4 linked regions of the Homo sapiens genome follow. The main gene of each other region encodes a partner of the protein of the gene in region 3 in a complex. Each region holds a gene or a part of one and is shown on either strand. Other genes may lie near its edges. The genes, in order: LRRC23, DYDC1, ROPN1L and DNAJB13.

What was found.
Region 1: ROPN1L (region 3) and LRRC23 share a complex: the UniProt entries of both Homo sapiens proteins name them as parts of the axonemal radial spoke complex.
Region 2: ROPN1L (region 3) and DYDC1 share a complex: the UniProt entries of both Homo sapiens proteins name them as parts of the axonemal radial spoke complex.
Region 4: ROPN1L (region 3) and DNAJB13 share a complex: the UniProt entries of both Homo sapiens proteins name them as parts of the axonemal radial spoke complex.

The regions. Positions count from the first base shown.
Region 1 is NC_000012.12:6,900,352-6,907,829, reverse strand, and holds the start of LRRC23 (leucine-rich repeat-containing protein 23), read right to left. Parts: upstream 3,009-7,478; 5' UTR 2,755-3,008; intron 2,246-2,754; 5' UTR 2,197-2,245; coding exon 2,071-2,196; intron 1,986-2,070; coding exon 1,876-1,985; intron 1,422-1,875; coding exon 1,168-1,421; intron 516-1,167; coding exon 385-515; intron 1-384. UniProt on the Homo sapiens protein: Essential for sperm motility and male fertility. Plays an important role in the proper assembly of the third radial spoke (RS3) head and the bridge structure between RS2 and RS3 in the sperm flagella.
Region 2 is NC_000010.11:80,353,739-80,360,906, forward strand, and holds the start of DYDC1 (DPY30 domain-containing protein 1), read right to left. Parts: upstream 3,018-7,168; 5' UTR 2,974-3,017; exon of another isoform or gene 2,522-2,973; intron 746-2,521; exon of another isoform or gene 623-745; intron 1-622. UniProt on the Homo sapiens protein: Functions as part of axonemal radial spoke complexes that play an important part in the motility of sperm and cilia. Plays a crucial role during acrosome biogenesis.
Region 3 is NC_000005.10:10,437,186-10,444,891, reverse strand, and holds the start of ROPN1L (ropporin-1-like protein), read right to left. Parts: upstream 3,014-7,706; 5' UTR 2,725-3,013; coding exon 2,594-2,724; intron 1-2,593. UniProt on the Homo sapiens protein: Functions as part of axonemal radial spoke complexes that play an important part in the motility of sperm and cilia. Important for male fertility.
Region 4 is NC_000011.10:73,946,704-73,954,027, reverse strand, and holds the start of DNAJB13 (dnaJ homolog subfamily B member 13), read right to left. Parts: upstream 3,003-7,324; 5' UTR 2,959-3,002; coding exon 2,891-2,958; intron 2,854-2,890; exon of another isoform or gene 2,791-2,853; intron 1,621-2,790; exon of another isoform or gene 1,352-1,620; intron 1-1,351. UniProt on the Homo sapiens protein: Functions as part of axonemal radial spoke complexes that play an important part in the motility of sperm and cilia.

The sequences.
Region 1 (7,478 bases), on a different chromosome or scaffold from region 3:
GAGAAACCCCCACACCTTTGGTCCCGGAAGTCGTATGTTGATGATTGTTGTGGTGGTAGTGTAAGAGCTGAAGAAAAACCCAGTCTGAGAGGAGGGTTTTCCTAAAACATTTCCACAGACTGATGTTTGTACCTCAATTATGGTCCATTTTGCTACTACCTGTATCAAGGTAAATTATCTCTGTATTATCCACACATTATATATTATCAGCCCTGCTAGGTGGCTGTGTATCTCCACAGCATCTGGAACCAACTATGGTCTTGATAATAATACCAGTTATTATCATAATGATGAAGTTAGTAGCTGAGCCTACTAGAAAGCAGGCATCCTGACCCCCAGGACAGTGCCCTCTTCCCTGCACCACCCTCTGACCCAGTGAGCTACCAGGTAGAGGTTCTTCAGCTTAGGAAGATTGATTCCCAGGGTGCTTTCCAGCTGGTTCCCCCGAAGCTCCACTGTGTGCAGGCTGATCAACTTCTCGGGGTCCAGACCTGTCACCATGTGGATGCTGTTCCCTGGGGAGGAGGGTTTCAAGAGCTCAAAGGGCCACTCCAAATGCTCAGCATTAGAGCCTGAATTTGGGGAGCCTCTAAATCATCCTACCATTCGCAAAGCAGGGTAGATACTGAGGAAGGCCAGCTCCAGACTTAATACCTCTGGAGCCCTGAGGCAAGTGGTGTGGTAGGTAGTCCAAGGTCCTGATGGACATATCCACCTAAGCCTTTGAAGAGTGAATGAAGCAGCTGACATGTCTAATTCCCTCTCCTTCTTCAATTCTTTGCTCAAATGTCATCTTCTCAGTGATGGTTGTCCTAACCAATCTATTTGACATTGCCACCTGTGTCCCCCATTCCTCTTACTCTGATCTATTTTTTCCAAGGCACTTGTCTCCTTTTAACATGCTACATGAATGTACTTACTGTGTTTGTTGTTACTTGTTTGTCTCTCCCAATTAGAATATAAGCTATATGAGAATAGGGACGTTCCTTGTCTTATTGGATCCTATATGGTTAGCATGTAGAACTGTCATAATGAATCATATTGCGTATCTGAATGAATGAATGAATGCAGACTGCCATGTGCCCTAGCCAAGGACCATACTGCCCACTTCTGTTGGCCTCAGGCTAGGAAGGAAAGAATCTTGTGTAGCCCATCCTAAAGACCCACCTTTGAGATTCAGGGTTTCAAGACGAGGATGAGAGATGCCTTCAGTGTCAGTAATCTGGTTATAAGCAAAACTAGCAATCTGCAGGTAGGGCAGTTCATTCATCTGGGCACTTCGCAGCCGATTGCCATCAGCCTTGAGCCAGAGCAGGTGGGTGAGGTAGTTGAGTGGAGACAGGTCTGTCAGGTGGTTCTCAGAAATATCCACATAGCGCAGATGGATGTAGGAGCGCAGCAAGTAGATGTCTGTCAGGTCCCTAGGAGATGGAAGAGGGAGAAGAAACCAGGTTTAGGGTTAAGCACCCAGTGAGGACTGGCAGAGTTGCTAAAGCAGAAGGCAATATGGAGATGGCTTATAATGGGGAGAAGAATGGGCAACAGATGGTAGGGGAGAAGAAGGGTAAGAGAAGGTAGGTGGGTTCTTAACAGTGGGCAGAGAGACCTGTGTCTGTGAAGGACAGAGAACCCATACTCTGAAAGACAAATAAGGGAATCCAGCAGGAATCCCCCCATATACTCTCAATCTCCAATTCCCCAGGTCAGCTTTGATAGGAGAAGTCTCAGAGCTCCTGAAAAGTAAATTCTGTCCTTCCCTTTCCACTAGGCATGAGAAGAGTCAAACTCTCAACCAGAACACCCAGGAATGACAGTGGGAAAGGAGATAGGGGCCCTACAGTCTCACAGTCCTCATCTGGTCCCCCCAAAACGCACCTCTCTTTAACCTCCAGCTTGACATAAGCATGAGCCAGCCCATTGCCTGTCTTACAGAGCAGAGAAAGCCCTTCCTTCATCATGTCCTCCGTGAGGGGGGTGGGCAGCCACTGCAGGTAGAAGTGGAGTAAGGTGTCTCTCCCCTGCCCAACCCCCTCCTTCAGCCCTAGGACCCCTCCTTGTCCAGGCTCTCACTTCCTCAGGGAACTCTTCCCCCTCTTTTCTGTAGTCCTCCCCCTCCTCTGTCTCCTTCTCGTCCTCTTCTTTCTCAGAATCATCCTGGTCTGGCTCAGAGTCTTCTAGATCATCTTCATCTGACATCTTTCTTCCCTCCTGAAAGCTCTGGAGTCAGATAAGCTCAGTCCTCCTCCTGAAAAAGAAGGTCTCATCAGCTTCTGCCAGCCTTCAGCTCCTTCATCGTCATTGACACGTGCCACTCCCATCACCCCCATGACTTCTGACCCACCAACTCTAGGCTTCTTTCCTTATCCCTGTGAACATCTCATTTTGATTCTCAACTCCCACTTCACACTTTCCACTGAGGACCCCCTCCCTTCAGGATGTCACCCACACCCCCAGGCCTTTCCTGTCCTTCACAGTGACTCCAGCTCTCCTCCAGCAGCCGGGTGTCCCTATTTCCTGGGCTTCCCTCTCCCCCATTCTTCCCACCTCCCCCTTAAGCCATGCTCTCCAATCTTCCCTACCAATTCCTCCTCCTCTCCTCTCAGCTCCCATTGCGCCATCCGTAATCCCTGCTCCATTCATTTCTTCTACTTTTCCCTCCCCACTGGGCCAATTTCCTTGGGCCCTCTGGTACACCAGCCTAAAGCGCAGTCTCCAACCCTCCCACTCAATTCGCCTTAGCAAAGGGGCTCAGACCCTGTTTCTGCTCAATCAGAAGCAGTTCTGGAGAGGCCCTTGGTCCCGAGAGGGAAGGACTGTTTAGCAAGCGGGCGAGGGGAAGGAGGGGTTGTGTACTGCTGTTATGGCAACGGGGACGGGGCACTTGGCAACTGCAGCTCGCCACCGTTGAGAGTAGAGCGGCGACTACCTGATGCGCAAATCAGCCGGGGAGGGGATTGATCAGTAGTTGCCTGGTTACCACGCCACTTTCCCGTCCCGGGAACCCGGATGAGGCGCGGAAGGGGCGTTGGGCCGCTAATTGGCTGAGGACAAAAAGAAGTGGGCAGGGCTGAGAAGCGAGAAGAGAGGGGGCGGGGCTAGTCATTACGTCACCCAAGACCTTAAAGGGACCGGACATCTTCAATGCAAAAGTATTGTGAATTCAGGAAAAACTCGTCCTTCGAAGCAAAAAGGGCGGGGCTGCGAGGAAAAGCAAGAAACACCAAGATAAGGGGTCTTTTCCCCTTCCCCCTATAGTTTCTGCTCATTAGTTATTTTCAGGTAGACCTTTGGAAGGTGGCTTGGTGGAGCGGAAGGAGTCCAGACCCAGATACCTTAAGAACTGGGTTGGAGTCTTGGCAGATCTGCATTTGCTAGCTAAACGTACCCAAGACTCTTTGTTATCTGTAGAATTAGCTTAACTATATCAACTGACAGGGATCCAGTATGAGTTATCCTGGACTGGTTTGATGCAAACCTTTTAGTGGGTGGAAGGCAGAAAATTCAACATCTGCCCACTAAAATACTCCTGATCCAACGTTGTTATATCAGTAATCAACAGGAACTGGCATAGCCAAACCCAGGCACTCAGGCCTGTCTGACATGTTGAAGGAGATGAAAAAGATGTTGAGATGCAATAAATATTTCTGGAGAGTTTGTGCGAGACATTATGTCAAACATCTTTACAACTGATATTTAATCTCTGCAACAGTCCTGTAAGATAGACATTTGAAAGAAGAGGATACTGAGGCTCAGGGAGGTTAAGATGACACAATTCCTGCCTGGGGAAAGGGGGATGTTACCAATCTTGTTGTGGAATCTAATGTAAATGAAACAATGAGGTAACCAGGTAAGATGGCATGTGATTCATTGTTAAATTGTGCCCACAGACTTTATATAACGGCAAAGTGGTCTGGTGGAAGATGTGGTGGGCAAGAAATCAGGAAGTATTATATTACCTCCTGCCCAGGGCAGCTTGGAGGAATGTGGTTAATAGGCAAATCTGTTTACTTGGTGTCATGGAACCAGTAGGGACTTTAAAGTCAGAGACACCAGCTTCAAAACCCATCTCTACTACTTAATACCTGTGTGTCCTTCAGCAGGTTATGAAATCTTACTGAGGTCTAATTTCCACAGTCGTGAAATGGGGATTATTAAAACGTCCACCTGTAAGGATTGTTAAGGGATTAAAAGAGATAATGTGGGTAAATCGCCTTGCACTTAGTTGACCCTTAGTAAACATTTTCCTGCTCCTCCCCACCCCTGGCCTGTGTCCTTGGTACTGGGGTTGCTGTGAGGAAAAAGAAATAATAAATATGAACACTCTGAAGAGTGAGATGTGCTATACAAATGAAAGTTATTGTATTGTTGGAGTGTGGAGAAGGGAAAAATCCATGTGGTTTGATGTAGTCAAAAGAAATGGATATGAGTTTCCTTGGCCAAGAAGAAAGAGGAAGACACATTAGATGGGAAGAAAAGTTGTGATGTAAGGGTTAGGAAGGTGTCCTTGAACATACACTTTTGTTATTTTGTTTTTATTTTTGTTTTGAAATAGAGTTTCCCTCTGTCGCCCAGGATGGAGTGCGGTGGAGCAATCATAGCTCACTGCAACGTCCACCTCCTGGGCTCAAGCAGTCCTTCCGTCTCAGCCTCCTGGGTACCTGGGACTACAGGTGTGCGCCACCATGCCAAGTTAATTTTTTTGTATTTTTTGTAGAGACAAGGTTTTGCTATGTTGCCCAGGCTAGTCTCAAACTCCTGGGCTCAAGCAATCCGCCCGCCTCGGCCTTCCAAAGTGCTGGGATTATAGGCATGAGCCACTGCGCCCTGCCATGCTTTTGTTAAGCACTTAATCTGTCCCTGTGCTCCGGGACAGTAAAGCACAGAAGTCCTTATCTTTTATCTTCAAGAGGTGTACAGTTCAGTGACAAGATTAAGTACACAAGTAATTCAATATAATGAGACATGTTATAATAATCATACCCAACATTTATAGAGCTTTTACTAAGTGCTAGGGATCATTGTATAGTATATGCATATACATGATATCATATATTCGGGGCAGAGATTTCAGAGGCAGGAATCACCTGTGGTAATGCTTGGAGAAGAAAGAGCTCAATGCCTGTGCAAAGAAAGCAGGTGGTTCTGCTGGCTGGAACAGTAGGTGCAGTCGGGGGTTGGAATATGGTAGAAGCAGTAAACAGACTTGGATCACACTGAAGGATCTGGACTTTATCCTGAAAGCTGTGGGGAGCTATTGAAGGTTTTATTTCGTGTTTAGTTGGCAAGGACTGAAGTTACACTGTGTAATGAGAGCTAGATACTCCACAACATCCTTGATATTTTTCCCCCATCGGCTGGTCTAGATAGAGTCTCTTTCAATTATAAAAGTAATATTTAGGCTGGGCGTGGTGGCTCACGCCTGTAATCCCAGCATTTTGGGAGGCCTAGGCGGGTGGATCACCTGAGGTCAGGAGTTTGAGACCAGTCTGGCCAATATGGTGAAACCCCGTCTCTACATACAAAAAATTAGCTGGGGTGGTGGCTCGCACCTGTAATCCCAGCTACTCGGGAGGCTGAGACAGCAGAATCGCTTTAATACAGGAGGCCTAGGTTGCAGTGAGCTGAGATCGCGCCACTGCACTCCAGCCTGGGCAACAAGAGTGAAACTCCGTCTCAAAAAAAGAAAAAAAATTAGCCAGGCGTTGTGGCTTGTGCCTGTAGTTTCAGCTACTTGGGAGGCTGAGACACGAGAATCACTTGAACCCGGGAGGCAGAGGTTGCAGTGAGCCGAGATCACGCTACTGCACTCCAGCCTGGGCAACAGATCGAGACTCTGTCTAAAAAAAAAAAAAAGCCAGGCGCTTTGGCTCACACCTATCATCTCAGCACTCTGGGAGGCCAAGGTGGGCGGATCACCTGAGGTCAGGAGTTTAACACCAGCCTGGCCAACATGGCGAAACCCTGTCTCTACTGAAAATACAAAAATTCGCCGGGCGTGGTGGCGGGCGTTTGTTATCCCAGCTACTCCGGAGGCGGAGGCAGGAGAATCGCTTGAACCTGGGAGGCGGAGATTGCAGTGTGCTGACATCGCACCACTGCACTCCAGCCTGGGCAACAGAGTGAGACTCGGTCTCAAAAAAAAAGAAAAAAAGATTTTTAGATTAGTTTAGGGTTTTTTTCTTCTAATTATTCAATTCTAATATGTCTTGGGCTTCTTTCATGTCACTAAGCATAAATCTACCTCTTTTTCTCATAGTTGTCTAGTCTTCCATTATGTGGATATACTACCACTTTCCTTTCTTTCTTGCGTTTTTCCTTTTTTTTTTTTTTTTTTTGGTGTTGTTTTTTTTTTTTTTGAGATGGAGTCTGGCTCTCTCTCCCAGGCTGGAGTGCAGTGGCGTGATCTCGGCTCACTGCAAGCTCTACCTCCCGGGTTCACGCCATTCTCCTGCCTCAGCCTCCAGAGTAGCTGGGACTACAGGCGCCCACCACCACACCTGGCTAATTTTTTGTATTTTTAGTAGAGACGGGGTTTCACTGTGTTAGCCAGGATCGTCTCGATCTCCTGACCTCGTGATCTGCCCTCCTCGGCCTCCCAAAGTGCTGGGATTACAGGCGTGAGCCACCGCGCCCGGAACTTTCTTGTGTTTTTCTAGAGACAGAGTCTCACTACATTGTCCAGGCTGAGAGGCAGGAGAATAGGGTCCGGAGGCAGGGAATCTAAGGCCGAATCATGCTGACTGAATATCAGAGAGTACTCCCTTTTCAAACCCTCCTTTCTCTGTATGGCATTTGAAAAATGAAAGTACGTCTGATTGGTCCCCTCTCACAACCAGTCAGACTGATAGCAGGCCTACTCTCTTCATTTTGATTGGTCCCCTCCCACAATTAGACTGGCAGTCGGCCACTACTTCATTTGCATAGGGTGAACCAATGGGAAACCTCTAGATTGTATTTAAACCCCAGAAAATTCTGTCACCAATGCTCTTGAGCCACTTGCTGGAGCTTGCTCCCACTCTGTGGACTGTACTTTCCTTTAAAATAAATCTCTGCTTTTGGTGGATCAAGAGGTCAAGAGTTGGAGATCAGCCTGGCCAACATGGTGAAACCCCATCTCTACTAAGAATACAAAAATTAGCGGGGCGTGGTGGTGCAAGCCTGTAATCCCAGCTACTCAGGAGGCTGAGGCAGGAGAATTGCTTGAACCCAGGAGCCGAGATCGTGCCACTGCACTCCAGCCTGGGCGACACAGCAAGACTCCGTCTCGCGGGCACGGTAATTAAAAAAACAAACAAAAAAAATCTCTGCTTTCATTGCCTTGCTTTGTTTGTGTGTTTTGTCGAATTCTTTGTGCAAAACACCAAGAACCTGGACAATTACCCTCAACCGGTCACAGCTGGAGTGCAGTAGTTTTTCACAGGCACAACTGATGCAGGGCAGGTGAACACCCAAATTGGCGATTAGCCCAATAAGGCTCA
Region 2 (7,168 bases), on a different chromosome or scaffold from region 3:
TTCCCACTGGGATGATGATACCCATTTTTCAGGTATGTTGTGAGGATTACATGAGACCCACATTACTTGGCATCAAGTAAACTTGAAATCAATAATGATAATATCTCTTTTCTGACTCTTGGACTTGAGAGTCCTTCAGGATTTTGAAACCATGTTAGTTGTAGTGACTTCCTTGGAGCCCTTTTGGAAACTATGTGAAACCCAGTCTCTACTGAAAATACAAACAAATTAGCTGGGCGTGGTGGCGGGCGCCTGTAGTCCCAGCTACTTGGGAGGCTGAGGCAGGAGAATGGGGTGAACCTGGGAGGCGGAGCTTGCAGTGAGCCAAGATCGTGCCACTGCACTCCAGCCTGGGCGACAGAGTGAGACTCTGTCTCATATATAAAAAAAAATATATATATATATATTTTTTCCTGAGAATCTGATGAAATGTAATCAATTGTTAAACAAATGTATAATGAATATTTGCCGGGCACAGTGGCTCACACCTGTAATCCTAGCACTTTGGGAGGCTGAGGTGGGTGGATCACCTGAGGTCAGGAGTTCGAGACCAGCCTGGCCACAATAGTGAAATGCTGTCTCTACTAAAAATACAAAATTATCTGGGCGTGGTGGCACATACCTGTAATCCCAGCTACTTGGAAGGCTGAGGCAGGAGAATCACTTGAACCCGGGAGGCAGAGGTTGCAGTGAGCTGAGATTGTGCCATTGCACTCCAGCCTGGGCAACAAGAGTGAAACTTCGTCTCAAAAAAAAAAAAAAAAAAAAGAATACCTATTATAGGTCAGGCACCATGATAGGTACTGGGAATACAAAACTATTGTGAATTGAATATCTGTGTCCCCCAAAAATCCATATGTTGAAATCCTAACTCCCAATGTGATGGTATTAGGAGCCTTTGGGAAGTGATTAGATCATTAGTGTGGAGCCGTCATGCATGGGATTAATGCCCTTATAAAAAGAGATGGGAGAGCGTGCTCTCACTCTCTGCCATCTGAGAATAAAACTAGAAGACAGCCACCTGCACACCAGCCAGAGGGTCCTCACCAGACACCAGAAATGCCAATGCCTTGATTTTAGACTTCCCAGCCTCCAGAATGGTGAGAAATAAATGTGTATTGTTTTTAAGCCACCCAGTGTTGGTAATTTGCTACAGCAGCGCAAACTAAAACAAAAACAGTCTCTGCCTTCATGGAGCTTATAGATGAGAAAGGAAGATAAATATTTAAATCAATAAATATGAAATTGCAGTTAAAATAAGTACTATGAGACCAGACAAGAGGAGTAGCTGATCAAGTCAGGAAAGTAAAAAAAAAGCTTCTTTGGGGGTGACATTTGAGCTAAGCTTACATTTACTGAAAAAAAAAAACAGTAAAATTAACACGACAAAGAAGAGAAGAGTCTTCTAGGTATGAGGAAAGGCCCTGATATAGGAATGAGCATGGCAATTACAGGGGATAGAATGCCACTGTGTCTAAACTTGTCCCTGGACAAATGCATCTAGCATTTTGCATAAAATTTCAGAGACAGTGACATCCTGGGGTCCGTCCATAACCCCCAATTTTTATTCTATGGATGAACCCCAGGATGTCAGTGTCTCTGAAATTTTATGCCATAACTATGTGCATATGCCATATGACAGTGGTGGGAGGGCAAAATGGTATAACTCCTATGGAGGAGAATTTGACAACATCTAGAAAATCACATATGCATTCACCCTTTGACTCATCAATCTTGCTTCTTGGATCCTATCTCAAAGATATAGTTGCAAAAATATGAAATGGCATATGCACACAGTTATTTGCAGCATTATTTACAATAGTCACACTGAAGCACCATCTAAATGTTCATCAAATTGGGGATTAATAAGAGCAACACAATGGATTATTATGCAGATGTACAAGAGAATGAAGAAACTAGAGAGTGATCTCTAAGACACAGAATAAAGAAAACGAGGTGCTGAAATTGTATATGGTCTGTCATCTTTTGTATTAGCAACAGCAGTGGGGAAAGGAATGTGTATGTGTGTATATGTAAACATAGTCATAAAAACTCTAAAAACGGAAAACAAACTGGCACAAATGAACCTAATTCCAAATGAGGTTGATATTGGTGTCTCAACCATACAGAGAAAAGAATTATTACAACTGACTTTGGAACACAGTATCTTCACTGTATTTCTTCAGTAGGATATACCTGAAAGACCAAAACGCTACACAGACATCTCAAAGTCATTTGAAGTGAAGTTAAAAAAAAAAAAAAAAAAAGGTGCACAGACTCCTGTTGCTGCTCCAGAAGGATAAAATGTGGGAAGGGAGGAAGGGGACCATTATCCCTAAAGAGAAAACTTCTGGCCTACCAGCGGGGCCAGGTCAGGGGAGGCTCTGTCTCGGATTTCTGGGCATATCAGTGGGACCCAGGCAAGGCCTGCCAACTCCCTTAGCATGTTCCTGTCTGTGAAACGAGGATAATACCCATCTCTCCTGTGGTAAGCAATGTTATTTTTCACATACACCAATAGGCATCTTGGCTCAACATAAGAAAGCCCTTTCCCACAGAAACAGCTGCCTCCAGCGTGAAGAAGGTGCCACAGAGATGGAAGGAGATTCCTTACCCACACCTGGGAGACAGCTAGCCAGCCAGCCAGCCAACTGGGCGGGGGCACCCGGGCAGGGGTGCCAGATACAGTATTGTATCTGGCAACCTCCCGGGGCGCTCAGTGTGGTTTTCCCACCCGGGAGTCTGGAAGGGTCTCCCGCAGCCCGCAGGAGACGCAGCGCTCCCCGCTCAGGGGGAGCAGGAGGACAGCTGGCCGCTTTCGGGAGCCCCAGGCGCGAAGCGGCCTCTCTCCGCCTCAGGTGAGTCCTGCTCGACGCCCAAGGCCCAACGGTCAGAACCGCCTCTGCCCGCCGGACCCAGCGAAGCTAGGGGAACAAATCCCAAAAACAGTTCGGGCCTTTCCGGTGCGCTCACCCCTACACACGCGCCTGCTCGCCACCCAGGAGCGGCGTCCCGTTGCCAGGCAACGAGAGCTCGCGCCTCAGGAGCCAGTGTAGGCGCCGCAAAGCGGAAGGGGCGCGCGGATAGGTGAGCAGAGGGCACGCGGTGGGCAGCGAAGGGGGAACGCGCAGCAGAGAGGAGAGGGCGTGCAGGAGTAGGAGCAGGCGGCAGAGTAGAGGGGGCGCGGCAGAGTAGAGGGGGCGCGGCAGAGTGGAGGGGGCGTGCAGGAGTAGGAGCCCGCCGCAGAGTAGAGGGGGCGCGGCAGAGAGGAGGGGGCGTGCAGGCGCGGGGCGCCCGGCAGAGAGAAGGGGTCGTGCGGAAGGGGGCGCGCGCCAGGGGAGGGGGCCAGAGAGGAGGGGGCGTTCAGGAGTCGGGCCTGCGGCAGAGATGAGGCGGTGTGCAGGAGGGAGAGCGCGCACGAGGGGGCAACGGGCAGAGAGGAGAGGGAATGAAAGAAGGGGAGCGTGGCAGAGAGAAGCGGGCGCGCTCCAGGGGGCGGGGTCCAGGGAGGAGGGGGAGCGTAGGATCGGGGCGGGAGGCAGAGAGGAGCGGGCACGCGGGACGGGCGTGTGCTCGTGAGGGGTCGAGGAAAGGCGTATGTGGAGGCGCGCGGGGTGGGTGAGCCGAGGAGACTTGCTACACAGAAACCTGGAGGAGTAGGGGCACACAAAAGAGCAAGGGACCCTGACTGGCAGCCCGGCATGCTCTGGGAGAGACAAAGAGGTGGCGGGCTTTGAGGAGGAACCAGGAAGGGCAGCCAATCGGAAAAGGGTGGAAGACCTTCCAGAGTCCCTGGAAGACCGTCACTGCAAGCTGCTAATAGCTTGGCAGTTTCACAACTCTGCACCTTTGCTCTTGCTGGTGACCTCTGCTTGGTTCCTTTCAGAACCAATTCGGGTGCCCCACCACCGGGAAGCCGTCCAGTCTCCACCAGGCCCAAACCCTTGCAGTCTTCCCTGGCCTAGTCGTCTGTGCATGTGCTAGCCTTTCCTGTGCTCTCTTTCAGCTTATGGGCGGGGCAGTGCCAGGCAAGAGAGGCCTTAATAGATGTTAGTTGAGCTAGTAAATGCCAGATTGGGCGTGGAAAAATCAAAGGGAAGCATGAGGGCAGGTGGCAGAACTCTCTCAATGAATAAGTCAAGAAATATTTACAGAGCTCCCAGTGTGCCAAGCGTGGGCGGTATACAGTAAACAAAGACAACCCCTATTCTTATCACCTTGCCTACTGAGTGCAAGTCCAGGAACTGTGTAAGCAGACCCTCAGAGGAGCTCTGGGAAACACTGAAAAATAGCCTCTCCCCCCATTGGTGAGTGTACCCTAAGTTGGTCTGAGTGGGCTTTAAAAGGCATCCCCTTGGCCAGGCGCGGTGGCTCACCGCCTGTAATCCTAGCACTTTGGGAGGCGGAGGTGGGCGGATCACCTGAGGTGAGGAATTCAAAACCAGCCTGGCCAACATGGAGAAACCCCATCTCTACTAAAAATACAAAAATTAGCCAGGTGTGGTGGCGCACACCTGTAATCCCAGCTCCTCAGGAGGCTGAGACAGCGGAATTGCTTGAACCAAGGAGGCAGAGATTGCAGTAAGACGAGATTGTGCCACTGCACTCCAGCCTGGGCGACAGACCAAGGCTCTCTCTTAAAAATAAAAAATAAAAGGCATCCCCTTGACTCCTTCCCCTCCAGCCCTCAGATTATGGCTCTATGCTGGCTCTACTGTCTTTGTACCATATTTTAGCGACTGTTGGGCAAACACATTTCCTTCAGATCATTGTTGAAAATGGGCAATTTAGAGTAGGGGGAGGTATGCCAATACGGCTTGCCACATGTAACCAGTGTGGCAGCCACCCCCTGACTAGAGAATGCAGAGTTGGTGATTCTGCCTTCGGGGAAGGACAGTTCTACAGTGATCCAGGCAAAGTAGATTGGTAACTACAGGTCGCTTGGAGATTTTATTAACATGCAGGTTCTGAATCTGTGGTGGGACCTGAGATTCTGCATCTCAACAAGTCCCAATGTGTCCAGAATTGGTGGGTTCTTGGTCTCACTGAGTTCTAGAATGAAGCCGTGGACCCTCACAGTGAGTATTACAGTTCTTAAAGGCGGCGTGTCCAGAGTTCGTTCCTTTTGATGTTCGGATGTGTTCAGAGTTTCTTCCTTCTGGTGGGTTGCTGGTCTCCCTTCAGAAGTGAAGCTGCAGACCTTTGCAGTGAGTGTTACAGCTCATAAAGGCAGTGCAGACCCAAACAATGAGCAGCAGCAAGATTTACTACAAAGAGCAAAAGAACAAAGCTTCCAGTGTGGAAGGGAACCCAGAGCAGGTTGCAGCTGCTGGCTCAGGCAGCCTGCTTTTATTCCCTTATCCGGCCCTACCCACATCCTGCTGATTGGTTCATTTTACAGAGAGCTGATTGCTCTGTTTTACAGAGAGCTGATTGGTCCATTTTGACAGGGTGCTGATTGGTGTGTTTACAATCCTTGAGCTAGACACAAAAGTTCTCCAAGTCCCCACTAGATTAGCTAGACACAGAGCACTGATTGGTGCATTTACAAACCTTGAGCTAGACACGGGGTGCTGATTGGTACATTTACAAACCTTGAGCTAGACACAGAATGCTGATTGGTGTATTTACAATCCCTTAGCTAGACATAAAGATTCTCCAAGTCTCCACTAGACTCAGGAGCCCAAATGGCTTCACCTAGTGGATCCCGCATCAGGGCTGCAGGCGGAGCTGCCTGCCAGTCCCACGTAGTGTGCCCGCACTCCTCAGCCCTTGGGCGGTCGATGGGACCGGGCACCGCGGAGCAGTGGGTGGCGCTCATCAGGGAGGCTCCGACAGCACAGGAGCCCACGGTGCGGGGGAGGCTCGGGCATGGCGGGCTGCATGTCCGGAGCCCCGTGGGGAGGCAGTAGAGGCCCGGCAAGAATTCGAGCAAAGTGCTGGCAGGCCGGCACTGCTGGGGGACCCAGCACACCCTCTGCAGCTGCTGGCCCAGTGCTAAGCTCCTCACTGCCTGGGGCCTGCAGTGCTGGCCGGCTGATCCGAGTGCGGGGCCCACCAAGCCCGCGCCCACCCGGAACTTGCGCTGGCCTGCGAGTGCCACACGCGGCCCCATTTCCCGCCCGCGCCTCTCCCTCCACACCTCCCTGCAAGCAGAGCCGGCTCCGGCCTTGGCCAGCCCAGAGGGGCTCCCACAGTGCAGCGGCGGGCTGAAGGGCTCCTCAAGCATGGCCAGAGTGGGCACCAAGGCCGAGGAGGTGCCAAGAGCAAGAGAGGGCTGCCAGCACGCTGTCACCTCTCACCCAGGTGATGGAATGCTGCTGGTCATCTGTCGTCAGACTAGCTTTGAGTAAGAGGGGTGTAGAAGTTTGTTTATCCAAATGCATTGGTTCAAGTGGGCCACACAGATTGGCAGGAGACACCACCCACCTCTGTCCCCACCCTCCATCACTACCCCACTCAATTTTTTTTTAATTCCCTTACAGGTCTTGGGGTCAGAAGTCCAAAATGAATCTTATAGAGCTAAAACCAAAGTGTCAGCAGGGCAGGTTCCTCAGGAGGCTCTGGGGAGAATCCATTTTCTTGTCTTTTCCAGCTTCTAGAGGATACCCTTGGCTCAAGGCCCTGAATCACATCGCTTTTTCTCCCTTGGCTCTGTCATCACCTTCCCTGTCTGACCGTACTGTGTCCCTCTTATAGTGACACCTGTGATTACATTGTTCCTACTCAGATAATCCAGGATAATCCCCCTATCTCAAGATCCTTAATTTAATCACAGTTACAAAGTCTCTTTTGCCATTTAAGGTGACATATTCATAGTTTCCAGGTATTCAGACATAGACACATTTGGGAGCCATTATTCAGCCCTAGAACAAGGACATTCTCTTACTCATATTTCCATTATTCAAAATTAAGAAATTTAACTTGGATAAATTATGTCACATAATCTACATTTCACATTCAGTTCAACCAATTTTCCCAACAATGCCCTTTATAGAATTCTTTCTTCTTCTTTTCTTTCTTTCTTTTTTTTTTTTTTTAGACAGGGTCTCGCTCTGTCACCCAGGTTGGAGTGCAGTGGTGAGATCTCAACGCATTGCAGCCACAACCTCCTGGGCTCAAGTGATCCTCCCACCTCAGCCCTGCCCCCAACCCCTCCAAGTAGCTG
Region 3 (7,706 bases):
AGTCTTGCTCTATCATCCAGGCTGGAGTGCAGTGGCACGATCTTGGCTCACTGCAACCTCTGCTTCCCGGTTTCAAACAATTCTCCTGCCTCAGCCTCCCATGTAACTGGGACTACAGATGCGTGCCACCACACCAAGCTAATTTTTGTATTTTTAGTAGAGATGGGGTTTCACCATGTTGGTCAGGTTGGTCTCGAACTCCTGACCTCAGGTGATTCATCAGCCTTGGCCTCCCAAACTCTGGGATTACAGGTGTGAGCCACCATGCCCAGCCTGATTAAGCCTCTTAAAGTGAAGTTTAGGCCAGGTGCGGTGGCTTACACTGGTAATCCCAGCACTTTGGGAGGCCCAAGTGGATAGATCACCTGAGGTCAGGAGTTCGAGACTAGCCTGGCCAACATGGTGAAACCCCATCTCTACTAAAAATACAAAAATTAGCCGGGTGTGGTGGCAAGTGCCTGTAATCCCAGTTACTTGGGAGGCTGAGGCAGGAGAATCGCTTGAACCCGGGAGGCAGAGGTTGCCGTGAGCCGAGATCTCGCCATTGCACTCCAGCCTGGGCAACAAGAGTGAAACTCCGTCTCAAAAATAAATAAATAAATAAACAAAGTGAAGCTTAACATAACTATCTCTAAGGTATTACTAAATATAGTTTAATGTTCCAAGAAGATGTTGCTAAATCTTGGAATTTTTTGTACAGCACAAACTCTTATAAATCCTTTTATTTAAGCTTGAATAATGGTTAAAACCAGAGGCTATATTTCTTTAGCAAGAACTTTGAAAGAGTCTTTCAGAAACCATTGATAAAAGCATTTCTCAGAAGGCAAGCACTGGATGGACAAGTAGCTCAGTTGGTGGGTAAAATAACAGCCCCAAAGGTATCCAGGTCCATGTTCCAGGAACCTGGGAATGTTACTTTACATGGTAACAGGGATTTTGTGGACTGATAAGGATCTCGGGTGGGAAAACTGCCCTGGACTATCTGGATGGCCACTGAATGCAATCACCAGTGTCCTTGGAAGAAGGAGGCAGAGGGAGATTTGAAGATGCTGGCCTTGAAAATGGAGGAAGGGGACATGAGCCAAGGCGTCCAAGAAATGCAGCTCTAGAAGCCAGAAAAGGCAAGGAAACGAGCTGGGTTTTCCTGAGAACCACTGGAAAGAGCAAAGCCCTGTCAACACCTTGATTTTAGCCTAGTGAAACTAATTTGGACTTCTGGCCTCCAGAACTGCAAGAATGTATGTCTGTGTTTTTTTTTTTTTTGAGACGGAGTCTCGCTCTGTCGCCCGGGCCGGACTGCGGACTGCAGTGGCGCAATCTCGGCTCACTGCAAGCTCCGCTTCCCGGGTTCACGCCATTCTCCTGCCTCAGCCTCCCGAGTAGCTGGGACTACAGGCGCCCGCCACCGCGCCCGGCTAATTTTTTGTATTTTTAGTAGAGACGGGGTTTCACCTTGTTAGCCAGGATGGTCTCGATCTCCTGACCTCATGATCCACCCGCCTCGGCCTCCCAAAGTGCTGGGATTACAGGCGTGAGCCACCGCGCCCGGCCCAAATGTATGTCTGTGTTTTAAGCTGTCAAGTTTTGTGGTGATTTGTTACAGCAGCCAAACGAAACTAATTCACTTTGGTTATAGAGTTTAAAGCCAGCAAAATTTGGCTGTTTTTTTTCTTTTTAAATTAGTTTTCTTATTAAAAAAAATACAGATGGGGTCTTGCTGTGTTACCCAGGCTGGTCTCAAACTCTTGGGCTCAAGTGATCCTCCCAGCTTGGCCTCCCAAAGTGCTGGGATTACAGGCATGAACCACCAAGCCCAGCCAAAATTTGAAATGTTGATGACTAAAATATTTAAATTAAATTTACACCTGTGCTGACTCTTGTCATCATAAAAGTGAGTTTTTGTTTTACATCTGTTTATTGAAAAGGGGCAAAGAGCTCTCCTGTAAAACCAAGAGGATTTCTTTTAATGCCTCTAAGATCTGTTGACTTGTAACTTTGAGATTATGAATGTCTGTTCCTGGCAAGTGTTGGAATGTTTGTGGCAAAAAATAAACTGTGAAGCTTCATTTGCTGGACAGTTTACCCTGAGCACTCTAGGGATGATGACCTCAGTATGACCACGGTCGTTCCGGTTCTAATAAATTTAACCAGCTCTGGGTATACATAGCTCTGAGAGGACTCTCTGCAGATGAGGAACTTAGCTAAAATATTCCTCTTTGTAAAGTCATTTCACAAAGTGACTGCAACCGTGTAATTTTTTTAACATAATGTAAACACTTTTTTGCCCAATGCAATTACTTTGTTAAGTTTTAGTCTATCTTCATCATAAACACTTTTAAACAATTGAGTTGCCATTACGTTGTAGGTAAGTGAGCATTTTGCAATGATTTCGGGTCTCATAGTCGATAAATCGAAATGGTTCCTAGATAAAACACTCAAGTATAGATGTCACCAATGCTAAGGGGAAAGTTTTGCCTGATACTCTTAAGGACGCTGAGTGCCGCGTAAGGCCCCTGGTCCGGGAGGAGGGCTCTCTGGGCTCGTCTGGCTTGGGCATGTAGACCGGACAGCTCCCCGGGCCAAGGGCGCTTACCCCGCGGACCACCGCAGCACGTCGGCCGGCTGGGTGCGGATGGCAGCCTTGGTGAATTGCTTCAGGATGTCCGGCAGCTCCGGGGGAATGTGGATCTGCTGAGCGCAGAACATGGTGTCGGGAAGCGGCATCGCTCTCCGCAGAAGGGACCAGGCTGGTGAATCGCGGCGCGCTGCGAGGAAGAAGGGCGGCTGTCGGCTACGACGCGGTGGACCCGCTAGCAGCGCGGGGCTTGCGGCCAGGGCCGCCTCCCATCCCGTTCCCGAGGTTGGGGCCGGATTCGCGGGGCTCTTACCCGCTCCTCCGCGGGCTTCGGGAGAAATTCGGACCAACTGCCACTCCGACAACACCCTAGACCCTGCAGTTCCCTAGCGCCAGCCGCCACTACGGACGCGCTCGGTATCCAGGCACCCGGGACGCGAGCAGGCCCCGCCCCTGGAGCCGCGCACGCGCACGCGGCCCTGAGCGAGGCGGGGCTGCTCCCGGGCTGGACAAGGAGGTGCTGGCGTAGTCCGACTAGCAGCAGCCGCTGCTCCCCGGTGGTTCAGAGCCGCGCGAGCTGAGCGTTTCGCCTACAAAAGCATCTTCGGATCGGTTTCCCACCGCCGAATGTGAGCGGCGAACTCACGAAGGACTCCCTCTTCCCCTTGCTCTGGCTGCGTGAGGCTGAGGCTAGGGGACTCGGGCCTGCTAGGAGGGAAGCGGGTTAAGTGAAGGGGCTGATCGCCTGGGCGGCACGGGCCCCGCTGCGGGACCCGCCTGCGCCTGGGGCCGCTCCTCCAAACTTCTCGGGCTTCGAACTTCGCACATGCTGTTCCCTGGCCTAAGCCATCCCGTAGTGAACCTGAGTTCTTAATTTAAAAAGCCGCTTAGACAGTGGGCAGTTTCCAGCTAAAACACTATTGTATTTGTTTTCTTACGATAGGTTGCTTGAGCCAATGTGACTGGCTCTAGGAGGAAATAAATCACATCTGTCAAAAGAGCCTCGAGTCGAAGGATAGGAGAAACCTCGAATTTGGTGGGTGCTGACCAAGGCACCATGCAAGGGGTTAACTTTGCTTTAGGGGGTGACCTGGCTGGCTGCTGCAGTTGCCGTTAACAGCCACCGAATGGATGAGACTCCAGATCCACCTCCTCCTGCGTTCCTCAAAACAGGAAGATGGAGAACTACGGAGAGCTACTTCCCAGAGGGGCCGATGGCAAGCACTCCCTTCAAGGAAACTGGGGAAGTTGCCCGATTTTGATCGTTTCCATCCAAACACCCACCAGACAATATATACATACACATTTCTAAATTAACAGCATTGGCAAAAACTGAAAATACTTGTATTTAAAGTTGATGACAGTATGAAAACAAGAAATCCGTCCGGGCGCGGTGGGTCACGCCTGTAACCCCAGCACTGATCACAAGGTCAGGAGTTCGAGACTAGCCTGGCTAACATGGTGAAACCCCCTTCTCTACAAAAATTGGCTGGGCGTAGTGGCGCGTGCCTGTATTCCCAGCTACTTGGGAGGCTGAGGCAGGAGAATAGCTTGAGCCCGGGAGGTGGAGGTTGCCGTGAGCAGAAATGGCACCACTGCACTCCAGCCTGGGCGACAGAGTAAGACTCTGTCCCCGCCCCCCTCCACCCAAAAAAAGAAAAAAAAAAAAAGGAATCTTCTATGTTGTTGAGAGGGATGTTAATTAGTACCTTTATGGGGCAGTAATGTAACACTAAAATTTTTCGATGATCGTGCAATATTACTTCTGGGAACTTACCCTACAGAAATACTATAAAAAGTAATATGGACAAAAATCTTCACCATATAAATTGGGTAAATGTCTTTTGGAAAACAAATCATGGCCTGGCCACACAATGGTATGAAAAGATGCCCGTGTAAAGTGAAAAAAAGCATCTTGTCAAACAATCTGCATAGTATGACACCTTTATTGTGATAAATGATTCTGTGAAGGTATGTCTGGAAGCACACAACTAAACTATTAACAGCAGTTACCTCTGGGAAATAGGACAGGGATTTCAGGTTTTATTTTGGCCATAGACACATTATTTTGATTCTAAATTCATCATTTATTTACTAACTTAGCATTACTATTGAGTACCAAATATTTGCCAGGGAATTGTTCTGGGAATACAGTAATAATTCAGTTTAAAAAAATAAAATCTTTGGAGCTTACATTCAAGTGGGAAACAACATGCAAATATAAACAACAAAGGTAAACCATATAGTATGTTTAAAAGTACAAAAGAGAGCCGGGAGTACAAAATACAGCAGGGAGATGAGACAGGAATGCCCCAGTAGCTGCAGCTTTAGATAAGCCTCAGTGAGAATGACACTTCAGGAAAGAAATGAAGAGGCTAAAGAGCCTGAAGAACATTTGGGTATTGCAAATAGTAAGTGCAAAGGCACGAAGGCCTGACCTGTTTTGGAGGCAGGGAGGACGGCAGGAGCAGGGTGAACACAGAGGTGATGGGGTCAGAGAAGGGAGAAAAGGGGTGCTTCATGTTTTGCCCAGCATTGAAGGCTATTGTGGACTTTTGAGTGCCATGGTCGTCTATTGGAGAGTTCTGAGGGTTGGTGTGATCTGACTTGGATCTCAAGAAGAACATTCTGGATTCAATGTTGAAAACAAATGGAAAAGGAGAGAGAGCAGGGGCAGAGGCAGCAAGCTCAGGAGAAACAGCGATTAAGTAAACAATGGGTTTACTTGTTCAGTTTTGAGACTTCTTTATGTAATCTAGATGCAACTCATTTATCAGAAATGTTTTGCAAATATTTTTCTGCCACTCTACAGCTTGTCTTTTTGTTCTCCTTATGGTACCTTTCAAAGAGAAGTTCTCAATTTTGATAAAGTACAATTTATCGATTTTTCCTTCATGGATTGTGCTTTTGGTGTTGGATTTAAGAAATCTTTTCCTAACCCAAGGCTGAACACGTTTTCCTTGTTGTCTTCTAGAAATTATACAGTTTTGGGGAACTATAATCCATTTGGACTTTAATCTTTGCCAGTGTTAAGATATGGATCAATTTGTTTTTAATTTTGCATCTGATGCCCAATTATTCCAGCATCATTTTTTCAAGACCTTTGCACCTCTGTCAAAAACCAGTTGTCCACATACATGTTGGGTTATTTCTGGACTCTATTCTGTTCCATTAGACCAATGCACAGCCAGCAGAAGGGACTGATCCCAAAAACATATGAGTGAATGAAGAGGAGTACTGGGTATGAAGCTTCTCATCTTTAGGTGTATCCTAAAGAAGAGTTACTGAACAAACACAGAGAAGCAGAAAAACTCCGGCACTGTTACATATGTGAAGAAAAGTTTCAAAATGATAACTAAACAATGTAAAATGAGGCAAAAAGGGGCCTCTACGTAGTGTTTACGTATGAGTGGTCTTAGAGAAGTGTGTGACTAAGTAGAACTAGATTGCAGAAGGCTGAAAGAGTAATGGCAGGGGGACCTACATATACCAAACAGTCACTAAGGAAGTGGCTAGGCCATCTCTCCCGGGTGAACCTTTCTCTGTGTTCCCCATGGCATTTTATTCATACCTCTGTAATACAATCTTTTGCTCATGCTTCTGTTCCATTCTGAGTTCCTTGAAGGGAGACATCATACCTCATTCAACTACAGTACTAAATACAGTGCTAGAAACAAAACAGACACCAAAATAAAAACATGGAGGAGGAGGGGAACGTTACCCTCTCAGCCCCTTGATACGTTAGTTCTCCTTATCACTACATGTTTGCAACAAGAGTAGCTATGAACTGTGGAGCGGAAGGGGGAAATTAATGGCCAGTTTCTGAACTTGACCATGCAATTTCCTTTGCTGAAAAATTTCAGCTTCACAGATTAAAGATGTCTATGGTTCGAATAGCATTTCCTCTATCACCCCTGCATTTAAAGTAATTAAAAATGCACTTGTTTGGGGGAAAACAATCATGGAAAAAATTCTGAACCTATAAACAAAGAAAAATTAGAAATAGTCTGAAGCAAAAGGATCTCCTCAGGGCACTCAGAAGGAAAAAAACATCACGCAAGTCTTTCCTTTTTATCTGGGACATATGGTCAGGTATGTACAATGGATTTGATTGGTTTTACTCTAAGTATTCAGCTAAAAGACAACCTTAGTGAAACTGACTTTCTGATCTCGTAGCAGACATGCAGAAGTGGGCAGTAGCTTGCTATTGCACAAAATGTGGGGCCTTACTCTTCCCAGTGAGGACGGTCTACAGTTCAAGTTAGGGAGACAGAAGGGGAGGGATGTGTCCTCTGCAACTATGCATTTAAATGTATACATAAAAGGGAGTCGCCACAGTCACATTTAACTGGAGTTGTTTTTCCTTCCTATTATAACATCTGGATTATCTATGCTGGCTAATAATGCATATTTCTGCAATCTTAAAGCAATCTTGCAATAACACAAAAACAAACAAAAAAACTAGACTACAATTAACATTCACTTTATTCAGTTTTGTCCTCTCAACTTAGAAGGCAACAAATGACCACATTAAAAAGGGAGCATTTCAGAATATATATACATAAAATTGGTCTGGGTACCCTAAGGTGTTTGCGTTGATAGAAAATTGACACCCCAAACTAAGTGTTCTACTTAGCTTCTACAATAGTTATTCCTAGACCTTAGATTAGTCATTACATTTTTATTTAAGGTACTATGTTACTTTCATGACTACAAAATGAGGCACTCGTACAAAACAGGAATGAAAACATACATATACTGTCTTGTCTTTATGTCGTATTAATGCCAAAGATATTGTCAGGGATTATTTTAAAGAAGCCCTTACTCATGATGGCTATTTTTAAAAATGGCACAGGACAGTAACAGGCTGAAAAGAAAACACCTGGTTGAGGGGACAAATTAAGTAAATACAAGACAGCTTAACCAAGGAAGTCAGCGAATCTCCACAAATGAGGCTTTTAATAATACTTTACTGGTAAGACATTTTAGTTGGGTTTTTTTTTGATGGCTGAATAACATCCTAAAGAAGTATTTTAAATATAATCTTTTAATTTTACAATGTAGAAAACTTCTCACAGTAAGTAGAGAGCTTAGAGTACTCAACCCTGAAAATGAAAATAAGTAGCTAGCT
Region 4 (7,324 bases), on a different chromosome or scaffold from region 3:
ATTATTATTATTATTATTATTATTATTTTATTATTATTTTTGAGACAGAGTCTCGCTCTGTCGCCCAGGCTGGAGTGCAGTGGCGCAATCTCGCTCACTGTAAGCTCCACCTCCCGGGTTCACGCCATTCTCCTGCCTCAGCCTCCCGAGTAGCTGGGACTACAGGTGCCCGGCTAATTTTTTGTATTTTTTAGTAGAGACGGGGTTTCAGTGTGTTAGCCAGGATGGTCTTGAGGGAAGAGAGCGACCATCTCATATTGTTTTATACTCAGTACCTGTTTTAAAAAAAAGCAACAAGGAAGTAAAACCAAAGACAGGCAGCCCAGCGCCAGGCCTGAAACCAGGCCTGGGCCTGCCTGGCCTAAACCCAGTAGTTAAAAATCAACTCATAATTTAGAAACCGATGTTATTCATAGATTCCAGACATTGTATAGAAGAACATTGTGAAACTCCCTGCCCTGTTCTGTTTCTCTCTGACTACCAGTGCATGAAACCCGTCACGTACCCCTTGTTTGCTCAAATCAATCACGACCCTTTCATGTGAAATCTTTAGTGTTGTGAGCCCTTAAAAGGGACAGAAATTGTACACTCGGGGAGCTCGGATTTTAAGGCAGTAGCTGGCCGATGCTCCCAGCTGAATAAAGCTCTTCCTTCTACAACTCGGTGTCTGAGAGGTTTTTTCTGCGGCTCGTCCTGCTACAGTCTCGATCTCCTGACCTCGTGATCCGCCTACCTCGGCCTCCCAAAGTGCTGGGATTACAGGCATGAGCCACGGTGCCCGGCCCAGCCATTTTTATTTTTTTGAGACAGGTGTTGCTCTGTTGCCCAGACTGGAGTGCAGTGGTGCAATCATAGCTCAATGCAGCCTCTACCTTCTGGGCTCAAGCAATCCTCCCACCTCAGCCTCCCAAGTAGCTGGGACTACAGGTGTGTGCCATCATGCCCAGCTAATTTTTAAATTTTCTGTAGAGACAGGGTCTCCCTATGATGCCCAGGCTGCCCTCTCAAACTCCTGGGCCCAAGGGATCCTCCTGCTTTGGCCTCCTAAAGTGCTCAGATTACAGGCATGAAACACCATGCCAGGCCTTAATCACTCTTTATATGACATGGTTTCACATGCAAATGATTGCTGGACACATGCATTATCTCATCTAATCCTATTTCAATCTCACAGCAACCTTTATTATGATGATGATTTTTAGACATGGGAAAACTTCGGCTCAAAGAGGTTAAGTAATTTGCCCAGGTCACGCAGCTAGCAGGTAAGTGAATCTGGATTCTGATCCAGCCCTTTCCAGTGCTTAAGCTGTGCTTATCTTTCTGCACGCCCACTGCCCTTCCTCCTGATTACCTTTCCCTGGATGGGTCCTTCTGGTCAATGAGATGCTCCGAAGAGTGGGTGACATCATACACTGTCCTGAATTGTTCTCAGATCCTTTCATGAGTTTGTGTCTTTTTTCTCCAACACCGCAGACTCTCCACTTATGCCACTGATCCCCTACAGGACCTGGCCCAGGAATAGGCCCATGACTGGCAACTCTGGGAGGCCTGATATCTGAACACTGGCTCCACCATTTACTAGTGCACTTGTGGGATAATAATGGCACTTAATTCTCAGGGCTGTTGTGAGGGTTAAACAGTGATGGAAAGTTCTCAGAACAGCACCTACACACTCAAAACATACACCTATTGTCACTGCCTAACTTAATTGATTGAGTTATCCTGGACTCCTCTTTTCTTCACCCTCCAGTGATCCACTTAATTACCAAGTCCATTCCCTCCCCTTTCTCTGGCCTCATCTTTTGCCTTGATTACCACGAACAGCCTCCTAAAGGGTCTCTCTCCTTCCAAGATAACTTCCACAGCCCCCCATACTTCCTCTTCTGTAACACTCATCACAGTTGTGGTGACTTATTCAACATCTATTCAGCAACAAAATCTAGCTGCATGAGGTAAGGGAGTGTCGATGTCGGATTCCGACATTTATCTCCAGCTGCTACCACTGCAGCAGGAGTGAAGTACCCTCTCAACCCTTGTGGTAGACGCTCAATAAATATTTGTTAAAAAAAAAAACATGTTTTTGGCCAGGTGCGGTGACTCACACCTATAATCCCAGCACTTGGGAAGGCTGAGGCGGGTGGATCACCAGAGGTCGGGAATTTGAGACCAGCCTGACCAAAAAGGAGAAACCCCATCTCTACTAAAAATACAAAATTAGCTGGGCATGGTGGTGCATGCCTGTAATCCCAGCTACTTGGGAAGCTGAGGCAGAAGAATCGCTTGAACCCAGGAGGTGGAGGTTGCGGTGAGCCGAGATCACGCCATTGCACTCCAGCCTGGGCAACAAGACCAAGACTCCGTCTCAAAACAAAAAACAAAAACATGTTTTCAGAAAAATGTACTGACTCCTGTTGTAGGCTTTCTTAGGAACGAGCCAGAACGTCCTTAAGATCCGATGGAAGTATTCAGGAATGTAGTTTAGTCAATGCTGAAAACCTCCATCATGGCCAGAATTGAATTTAAAACATCCATCTGGCCTGGCCACTCCCTTGTTCACAAGCCTCTGGTTCTCCATAATATTCAAGATAAAGTTCAAATGGCTCCTTTGTCCCCACTTCATTGCTGGGAAAAGCAAGGCACCCAGGAGAGGATATAGGGCATGGAGCATAAAGGGAGATGGGTTGGGAGCAGATTGAGGAACTAAAGAGTTCAAATTTCCAACCTGGGCCCTGACCCAGACCAAAGCCAGGATACAGGTATGCAAGAAGTGAAAGGAGGAACAAGGTTTACCTTGTCTGCGCTAAGCTGTGCAGGAAAGCTCGTTTTGGAAGAGAAGAGGGCAGGGCCTGCCCCAGCACACCCCTAAGGCCTGGCTCCCACCCCAACTTACGCCTGCTTGATCTGGGCATCCTCTGAATTGCGAGTGATCCCGAGCACAGAGTAATAATCCTGGCCCATGGCTGGCTAGCTGGCAGTCAGGCCCTGGATAGTCCTCAGACTCTAGCAAGGCTGTTAGTTGGCTTCCTTGGTTGCTCCTGACAACCGCACAGGTGCACTCTGGGAGTTGTAGTCCCACTTCCCTAAACAAATTTCAGCTCTGCCACAGAGAGGAGTCAGTGAAAGGACTGGGGGAGAGCTGGGGCTGATTCTGCGACCCTGTGAAAGGTCACTCAACTCGGAAATTGAAGACTCACAGGGCTCTGTTTTATTTTGTTTTTGTTTTTAAAGAGAGCAGTAATTAGTTTTAATAAAAAGGTTTTAGAAGAAATGCATTTGGCTAATTTTTTAAAAATACATTTATTTTAGAACAGTTTTAGAGTTTAGAAAAGTTGAGAAGACAGTACAGAGAGTTCCCATATACCTCACATCCACATTCTCCTATTTTATTATTATTATTATCATTATCATGTTTTTGAGACAGGGTCTTCACTCTGTCACCCAGGCTGGTGGGCAGTGGCAGGATCACACCTCACTGCAGTCTCAACCTCCCAGGCTCAAGGGATTCTTCCACCTCAGCCTTCCAAGTAGCTGAGACACAGGCGTGCACTACCATGCCTGGCTAATTTTTGTATGTTTTGTAGAGATGGGGTTTCACCATGTTGCCCAGACTGGTCTTGAACTCTTGGGCTCGGCTTGGCCTCCCAAAGTGCTGGGATTACAGGTGTGAGCCACTGCATTCACATTCCCCTATTATTAACATCTTACATTAGTATGGTACATTTGTCACAAATAATGACCAATATTGATACATTATTATTAACTAAAATCCACATTTTATTCAGATTTACTAGTTGTTTTAACCTAATATCTTATTTCTGTTCCGGACCCCATCCAGGATGCCACGTTACACTTAGCTGTTGCATCTCCTCTGGTGCCTCCTGACTGTGACAGTTTCTCAGACTTTCCATGTTTTTGATGACCTTGACAGTTTAAGTAATAATGGTCAGGTGTTTTGTAGAATGTCCTGCAATTGGAATTTGTTTGGTGTTTTTCTTTTTGTTTGTTTGTTTTTGTTTTTTGAGATGGAGTCTCACTCCATCGCCCAGGCTGGAGTGCAGTGGCACAATTTCAGCTCACTGCAACCTCTGCCTCCCGGGTTCCAGCGATTCTCCTGCCTCAGCCTCCCAAGTAGCTGAGATTACAGGCATGTGCCACCATGCCCGGCTAATTTTTGTTATTTTTACTAGAGACGGGGTTTCACCATGTTGGCCAGGCTGGTCTCAAACTCCTGACCTCAAGTGATCCACCCACCTCAGCCTCCCAAAGTGTTGGGATTACAGGCGTGAGCCACCGCGCCAGCCCTCCTTCCCCACTTGCTGTATTGCACTCTTTGGAAGGCAGTCACTGTGCGGCCCACCCTTACAGTGAGGGAGTTATGCTCCACCTCTCTGAGTACAGCAGAGCCCTGTTTTCCATGCACATCCCAAATCCAACTGGTCACCAAGCTCAGTCCATTCTGCTTCCTAGACAACCTCTCAAGCCCAGCTCCTCTGCTCTTCCTCCTCATAATCAGGGCCCAGCTCTGGATTCATCTTTCAGCAAGACCACAACAACTTCCTCGCGGGCCTGCCTGCCTTGTCTCTGTTCTGCAAAGCCCACACTCCTCATTACTTCGAGTGAACTCCAAACTGCTTACCATGGCACACAGGCCCTCTGTGATCTGGTGCCTCCCTTTCCACCTGAGCTCTCACCACTGCCCTACACGCACCCACTGCTTGTCAGAATGGACTGCAGTGCCTGCCACTGCCCAAACCAGCCATCCCCTCTCCTCATTCACCTCTGCTGCTACCTCTGCTCAGAACCTCCCACCCCACCCACCACAGACCCTCGCCTCAACCCAGCTAACTTCTATTTGTTTTTTCTTCTTAGGAAGAAAAAGAGCAGCATTAGAACATTCCTTGTTGAAGGAATATTGCCCCGATGTGCCCCTCCCTACCTGTTTGTAATTCTCTTGCTTTTCTTTAGAGCTTTACTCCATATGCCTGTACCCAGTGGTGTGCTGTTTTGTGGCATTTGCCAGTTCTTCCCAAGCCAGTACAAGCCAGCTCCAGTGCCACACTGCAAATATCCACAGCAACATATTTACCTTTTCATATTTTTGAACTTTATATAAATGGTATCATTTATACAAATGGTAGGTATTTGTGTGTGTGACTTATTGTCACAGGCTGTATAGTACTCTCTGTTGATGAACATTTGGGTATATGCGCCCACTTTGCAAGGCAATGCCAAAGTTTTCTGGTGTGGTTTTCTAATTTACGCTGGCAACAGCAGTGTATCAGTTTCTTTTGCTTCATATCCTTACCAACTCTTTTTTTTTTTTAAGACAGGGTCTCCCTCTATTGCCCAGGCTGGAGTGCAGTGGTGCGATCATGGCTCAACCTCCTGCAGCCTCGACTTCCTGGGCTTAAGCAATCCTCCTGCCTCAGCCTCGCAAGTAGCTGGAAACCCAGGCACACACCACCACATCAGGCTAATTTTTAAATTTTTTGTAGAGACGAGGTCTTGCCATATTGTGCAAACAGGTCTTGAACTCATGGGCTCAAGTGATCCTTCCATCTCAGCTTCCCAAAGTGCTGGGATTATGGACATGAGCCAACACTCCTGGCCCTCACCAACTCTTGATGTCAAGTTTTAAAACGTTTGCCAATATAGTAGGCATAAAGTGGCATCTCATTGTGGATTTTAATTTGCATTTCTTGGTTGAGTATCTTTTCATACTTATTGGCCATTTGTTTTTCCTCATTGTGAAACACCTATTTATGTTTTTGCCCATTTTTTTCTATTTGACTATCCTTTTTACAAACTGACAGGCCGGGCATAGTGGCTCATGCCTGTAATCCCAGCACTTGGGGAGGCCGAGGTGGATGGATCACCTGAGGTCAGGAGTACAAGACCAGCCTGACCAACATGGAGAAACCCCATCTCTACTAAAAATACAAAATTAGCTGGACATGGTGGCGCATGCCTGTAATCCCAGCTACTTGGGAGGCTGAGGCAGAAGAATAGCTTGAACCTGGGAGGCAGAGGTTGCGGTGAGCAGAGATTGTGCCACTTCACTCCAGCCTGGGCAACAAGAACGAAACTCCGTCTCAAAAAAAAAAAAAAAAAAAAAAACTGACTAGTGGCTTTTTATGTTTTTTGAAAACAAACTCTTTGTTGATAATATGAAATACGAATCCTTTCTTCAACTTGAAGCTTTTTTCACCTTTTTAAAAGTCAAATGTATCAATCTTTTCCTTTCTGGTTACACGTTTTGTGTGTGTCTAGTTTAAGAAATATTTCCTTATGTGAGGGCATAAAGATCTTCACCTATATGATCTTCCGAAAGTCCATTTCACATTTAAATATTTAACACACCTAGAGTTTATTTTTTTGTATATGGAGCAAGATAGTATCTTTTCTGAAAGATATCCAACTGCTCAGATCATTTATTTAATTGTCCATTGTCTTCCCACCGATCTGTACTGACTGCTGTGTTAGATATGAAATTTCCACATATGCATGGGTTGGTGTCTGGAACTACTGTCCATTGGTCTATCACTGGGGCAATGTGTTGCTAGAAGAGCTGAGGCAAGTCTTGCTTGTCTGACATAACGTAAGAGAGTCTTGGAACATGTCCTGGGTCCAGGGTCTAAAACCCCTCGTGGCCTTTGGAACACCAAGCTCTGTGCCAAAGGGTGGAAGGCTGCCCTGCCACACCACAATCTAAGCCCAGGGCATAAAACCCCTCGTGGCTTGGATGCAATCCAGGGCTCAGGGAATAAAACCCCTTGTGGCCTCTGGAATGTGTCCAGACTTGCTGGCTCCTTGCTTCTTGCTGTCCCAGGTTTGTAAATTGATTGTTATCTTGAGATAGAAAAACACGTTCTCCATTATCTCGAGTAGCAGAGCATACTCCATATGCTTAAAAGAAAATGCTAAACTGCCACAGCTATAGGTCAAACGCTTGATGCACCGCTTCCTTTCTAACCCCATGTCCTCACGTCCTCACCACCTGCTTCTGTTTGATCACCAATAAAGAGCGTGGGCTCCCAGAGCTCAGGGCCTTCGCAGCTGCCATACTGGTGTTGGCCCCCTGGACCCACTTTATGCATTCTTGTCTTGTCTCATTCCTTCGACTCTGCCAGACTTTGTAGCCCCCACAGCCTGGTGTTGGGTCTGATCACTCCAACATTTCTGGCACCCAATGTGGGGCAACGAAAACCCCTGTGAAGGAACGCTAGAGCATGCGGAAGCAGAGGACAATTGTCAGAGGACACCAGAGGATGACTGAAAGAAGCTCGGCAGGTAAGCTGGACGCTTGGAAGAACCAGGGTAACAA